Linked DNA regions of Homo sapiens: region 1 is linked to region 2. Evidence: fine-mapped expression QTL. A gene starts in region 2. The other region holds a variant in brackets. All regions are shown on one strand. Distances are from middle to middle.

Region 1 (2,906 bases), 39 kb after region 2:
AAATCACATACTAACCACCCCCTGTGTAAAAGCGTCCCATGGCTTCTTATCACCCTCTGTAAATCCCAGCCTCCTCAGCAGCTGTGGCTACCTGTCTCCCTCACCTCATCCTCCGTCGCTTCCCCTTGCTCCCCTGGCCCTTGGCACATGGCTTGCTTTCTTTCCTTAAACATACCAAGCTTACTGTACACTCTGGCTCTTGCCATTGCTGCCCACTCTGTGTGGACTTCCCACAGACCTCTGGATGGTAAGCTGTTTATCACCACCGAGGTCTCAGCCTCTTGGCTAGTACTTTTGTGAGCACGTTAGCTAAGTAGCCACCTCCCACTCCTACCACCACTCCTTCACACTTGCCTCTCACCCTGTATTATTTTCTTTACAACTTATTAGATTTTTTTCTTTGTCTCCTATCACTAGAGTAACATAACAAGAGAATAAACTTTGCTTTACTCTTTGTTGTATTCCCAGAGCTTTGAACAGTGCCTAATATGCAGTATGCATTTAATACATACTTGTTCAATGAATAAATCAAGTTAGCTTTTCAACCCAAATCTATGTAAAGACAAAGCCCAGGCTTTGACCACGAACATGCTGCAATTTTTTATTGAATTCTTAAGATGGATTCAGTCCTGGGACAGGCATACTGCCAAGTACATGGGAAAACATCTGCTTCCTCCCTTCAAGATGTTTATAAGTTAGTTGTGATGCCAGACTCATTTATTCTTGAGATAACAAATACAGTAAGTGCTGAGTGAAGGGAAATGTATCAGAGGGCACCAGAATGTAGAAGAGAGTGGTCAGTGAAGATACAGGTGGTCCTTATAGGGCCTCCTAGAGCTGAGAAACTTGATAGGAGCCTTTTGTGGTGGATGCCAGTTAGGGGGAGGGTAAGACTGTCAGGTCTTGGATGAGACTTAGAGAATCAGTGAGTTTATCCAGGAAAGAGTCATCAATGACATGTGTTTTAGGGCATTCCAGAGAGGGACATTTGCTAGATACTTTTTTCTGGAAAAAAGCCTCACTCTTTACTTACAAGTATAGTTTTATGAGAAAACGCGGGCAAGAGAAGAGGAAAGGAGGAAAGAGAAAGCAAGGCAGTGAGGTTTCTTCTTTCTCACTCTGGCCATGGTTGTGGTAGGGGCAAGATGGATCGAGACTGGCACACAGTGAGTGCCAGATAATTATTGGCCCACTTACTCTTGAAGGTCTCCTCTGTGGGACTTTCCTGGAATTCCACGCTCTCTCCAGAAATAAATGGCCAACTGTGGGACCTAGGAGGCTACCTCTTTAGGGCCAGCAGTAAGGCAAAGCTGCCATGCAGCATAATCTGCCCAAGTGATTGGACTGCACAGACCCTTGGCCATTGGAAGAGACTGCACCATCCCAGAGTTTCCCAGAGGGCCACCATCATGAGGATTGCTCCTATCATGGCTCCCAGTGAAGGATAGAGCAAGGAGACCCCTGAGAACTAAATTGCCAGCCAGTGAAGATGACTTACTATGCTCAGAATTAACATTCATCCATCCACCACCCCATCCATCCATTCAGGAAGCAAATACTCTATGCCAAGAATCTTGCAAACTGTAGGAGCTATCACAAGGGTTAGATAGTTTCCTTTCCTTGAGGAACTCATGGTCTACTCATAAAGAAAACCATATGCTGTTAGTTTCTTAACTCTACCCATGTTTCCAGGGCAGAGTTGAATAAAAGATTTATCACATACCCAGGCTTGGCCACAAAACCACACCACAC[G/C]AAACCAAAACACTCCATGAAGGGAAAGACTAATTAACCTTCCCACCCCCCCACCCCTCAAGCCCTTCCCAGAGAGGTGATAATGAAAGATTTGGTCTCTACTGAGCCACAACAGGATTTGCATTTTAAAGTTTGACAGATCTTTATAGGCCTTTTGATCTCTTTTCTGCTCTCTACCTACCCACCCCAGACTTGCTGCCTCCTCCCAAACCCCCCTCAGTTCTCTACCCTGAACAAGCTATAAGCTTCAGAAATGATGGTCCCAGGTCCAGAGGCCTCTAGGATATGTGCCCTGGTGTAATGTGCTCCTAGCCATATAGCTCCTATTTATTGAATATCAGCTGTATATCAAGTACTTTTCTTCCTAACCCGCACAATCACCCTGCAAGGTTCATATTATTTACCTTTTTTTAAGTGAGGAGGAAAATGAGGCATGGAGGTTAAATAACCTGCTCCAAATCACTAATAAAAAGTAGGAGCGACAGAACTAAAACCTAGGTCTGTGCACCGCCAAACCTATAACCTTTTCATTAAGCCACACTGACTCCATTAGACAATACTGGTTATTGTAGGCTATCGTAACTAAATCCTTCTTGGAAAGGTAATCCTGCACTCCAGTTTTCTTGCAGGTGTTATTCTGGAAATAGCCCAATAAACGTCACAATTTGATTTACTCGAGGACAAACTTGCAGCTGTCTTTTCTTTTAGAGCTCTTCTTGAGCTCTGACTTTTTCCTCTCTTTCTACTCATCTTTCACACAGACTACTGCAGCCGGACAGCTGCATGTCTTGGTTTGGTACTGTCATCTGCAGCCTCCTGGGCTTTGTGGAACAGTCTCTCCAACCCAGAGAAAGCCTATTGGAAACAAACTCAGAGTCTCAGATACTTATATTTTTGCAGCTGGAGGGAACCCAGAAAGCCATCTAAAACTGAGTTTCAGAGAATGACTAGTGCAAAATAACTGGTATCAGATTTACTAAAATACTGCAGCTTTGCTATGTTAAAGTAAAAGAAGGAAACAAGTCACATTAACAAATATTTCAATGTGCCGGGTGCTTTATCTCATTTAATCTTCACTACAACCCAGTGAGGTAAAATTAGTTACTATCCTTGTGCTCCAGATGAGCCCTGACTCAGAGACATAACTGACTCTA
Region 2 (2,906 bases):
TGAGTCCACGGATACAGAGGATGCACTGATAACTGTATTATTTCTTCCAACTTGCATAAGAAGAACTGAAACTTAAAGAGGTGGTACCAACCTGCTCAGAGTCACACAATTCTGGCTTTTTGTGATATAAATACACGCTTTTAGGCAATATACTAGTGGCCTCCAAACGTTTTGTACTTGCACCCATTAAGCAAAAGAAATTTGAAATACATGTTCCAACATAAAATTAATACCCTATGTTTCACGTAGAAATCAAATGAAATAAATCTAAATAGAAGTTCTAATATGTTCCCTCTCTACCCACACACCCATGGAACAAACTGCATGCCACTGTATATACTATTGTACATGTTAAAAGATCACACTGCAACCATATAAAAGTCAGGAGATTTGGGTTTTTCTTTTTTCCTTTGAATATATATTACTGAGAAGTTTGCCTTTAAAACACTGGCTTTTAATCTACTACTCGTGACATATGCAGAGTAATAAGCGCTCACAAAACTTCTGTCTTGAGGGCTCAAACACCAAATGATTGCTCTAAGAATTTTCACAGTATTACCTCAAACCCTATTGGTTCTACAACCTTTCTCTACCCTAGAGTCCTGTTTTCCGCAATTCCCAATTGGGATTCTTCTCCGGTTCATTTCTGTAAGAAATGAGGGCAGAGAAATGCCATCAGTAAACCTTTGAACACATGTTAATTTTTCTAGGTAATACAATTTGCATTTTCGTAAAACTGGGCTTTAATGACAAATCCGATTTCAGTGATCTTTGCATACACCCTTTAAACACACCAGTTGCCGCCTGCGAGATATCATCAGACTCATGCTAAGAGCCACTCCCTACCCCAGCTTTCCCCAGACCTCTCCCCGCTTTACAGTTATTCGCCACAGCCCGGGAGAGTCTGGGGACGGCCGCCTGGGAGGGGACGGCCGCCTGGGAGGGGACGGCCCGGAGCAGACGCCAGGTTTCCCGCGGCTCAGGAGACCGGTGCCGCCTCGGAGAGCGCGCGAAGGTGCCGCCGGCCGCCCGACCCGCCCGAGGAACGGACATCTCCCGCCCGGGCCCGCAAGGACGACCATGAACACCGCCGCAGCTCAGCTGACCCTGCCTCTCCCGGGTGGCTGGGGGTCGCCAGCCAAGGGGGCAGCGGGCGGAGGATGAACCCCGGAGCAAGGGAAAGCGACAGCGCGCGCCTTCACCCTACCGCCAACAAGTCGAAGTCTCCCAAAGGAACCTGATCGGCGGGGCTGCCGTGGTACGACCGGCCGCTAAGGCCACCCTGCGGGCGTCTCGACCTCGGCTGACCGCCGCTGGCCCCCTGGGAACCGCGTGCCGGCCGCAGGAGAAGGTAGATTCCCGGGAGCCCCGGCGCCCACCGCGGTACTAACCGCGCCTGCGCCCCGCCCTCCCTCCCTTCGGGCTCCGCCCGCGCCTGCGCAGTTGCGGGGTTTCGCGCCGCCGGAGTCTGAGAGGCCGGAAGTGCCCCTTAGCGGGTGGGGGAAGCTGGTAGGCACGGGCGGCTCCGCAGTGACCGGACTCGGGGGAGGTGAGTGATTTGCCTAAGTAAAAGGGAAAGATAATTGAGCGCCCCCGGCAGCTGGTCTACGCATGCGTCCGCTAGGCCGGCTGGGAGCCGGCAAGGGAAAGCCGAGCGGGCCCCATTGGGGGAAAGGGGTCAGTCACTTCCCGGAAGAGGCGGGGCCGCGCGGGCCCGGCGCTGGATTCGAAACGCTTCCTGGTGCTCCTGGGCCTGGCGGTTGAGCCCGGGGAGCTAGTCTTTGCTTGGGTAAAGAAAGAGGACTTTCCTTTTTTTTTTTCCTTTTGAGAAAATTCAGAAATTTGGAGGCACAGTAGTTAGGATTCAGGCCAAACTGGTAAATGACGAAGGGGCTTCTTCCAGAGCCAAGGAGGAAGGGTTGTCCGGGTAAGTCCCGCGGGACGTGGAGAGACGGCGCCGCCCGGGTCCTCCCACTGATTCCTTTGACCATCTGGCTTACGGACGAGCTCTTTGTTCGCTGCTCCTCCGAAAACGCCTTCAATGACTCCCTTTGAATAAAGTAGGAAGTCCGAACCGAGCCGCCAGGCCGCGACTTGGCCCCTGTTTTCCACTCGCGAGGGCCCTGCGTCACCCCGCCTCGGGAAAGCTGCGCGTTCTCCGGCCGCTTGCGCTTGGCCGAAGCTGCTGGGTCCCGCTGTGCTTCCCCCGGGCATGCGATGGGGATAATTCCCACGCCTCGCTCAAAGCCATCCCGGGAGAGCCCTCCCTGGTCCCCATAGGCACAGTTGGGTGTTCCCTTTTCCGTGTTAACCTTGTATTTCGGATATAGTTCTGTTATAGTAATTACTTTAAGGTATTGTAGTTATTTACAATCAGTCTTTCCCCCACGGTAACCTAGAGTGTAAACCCCCTAAATAAACGTCAGAAGTAATGAAGTCTTAACTTCCTTGGCTTAGGTTTCAGCGCCCTTCTCAACCCCACACTCCCGCTTCAGTCTTTACACAACCCTTCCCATGAATATGCTGACCTAACAAGTAACCTACTTTTCATACTCCAAAATCTTCTCTTCTGTGTGGGGAAAATAATGCATTGACTGCCACCTCACTCCACCTCCAAATAAATTGATGTTGAAATTCTGGCCTCCGGTAATGGAATTCTTTACATCAAAGTCACTTTTTATTTCTAAAAGTAATCACATATATATTATATTCCTACTGTGGCCCTTGCCATGGATCAACGAAAAATATGACATAGTCAAAATAGACCAAAACATCTGGCCTTGTTGTAACCAATGGGAAACACGGTTGGGAGGTCCCTACTTACATGTCACTTGCTTCAGGAACCGTTCCTTGATTCCTAAGTGGGGGACCTTTTTTCCTAAATACAACTATAGCTTGCTTTCTTA

Which allele goes with the higher level. Alleles are on the strand shown, and positions count from the first base shown. SD is a standard deviation of normalised expression in the study named.
In carriers of allele G in region 1, the expression in lymphoblastoid cells of the gene that starts at base 1,392 in region 2 tends to be lower than with C alone (small effect, 0.39 SD a copy in GTEx).

The links. PIP is the estimated chance that this variant, and not a neighbour inherited with it, causes the effect.
Region 1: its variant is fine-mapped to the expression of SMC6 in lymphoblastoid cells (GTEx, PIP above 0.99).

Annotation. Positions count from the first base shown.
Region 1 is chr2:17,791,022-17,793,927 of GRCh38, forward strand. All of the region lies in intron 3 of LOC105373449 (a long non-coding RNA gene), which reads right to left. Among named protein-coding and RNA genes, the nearest start is that of MSGN1, 24 kb to the right of the region's middle. RefSeq lists a silencer at 541-835. The variant G/C (reference allele first, on the strand shown) is at 1,753.
Region 2 is chr2:17,752,419-17,755,324 of GRCh38, forward strand. It overlaps SMC6 (structural maintenance of chromosomes 6), which reads right to left and starts at 1,392. Exons shown (of 28, transcript NM_001142286.2): 1 at 1,208-1,392; 2 at 560-646. GEN1 (GEN1 Holliday junction 5' flap endonuclease) reads left to right here and starts at 1,720. Exons shown (of 14, transcript NM_001130009.3): 1 at 1,720-1,927. RefSeq lists silencers at 868-1,227, 1,368-1,507.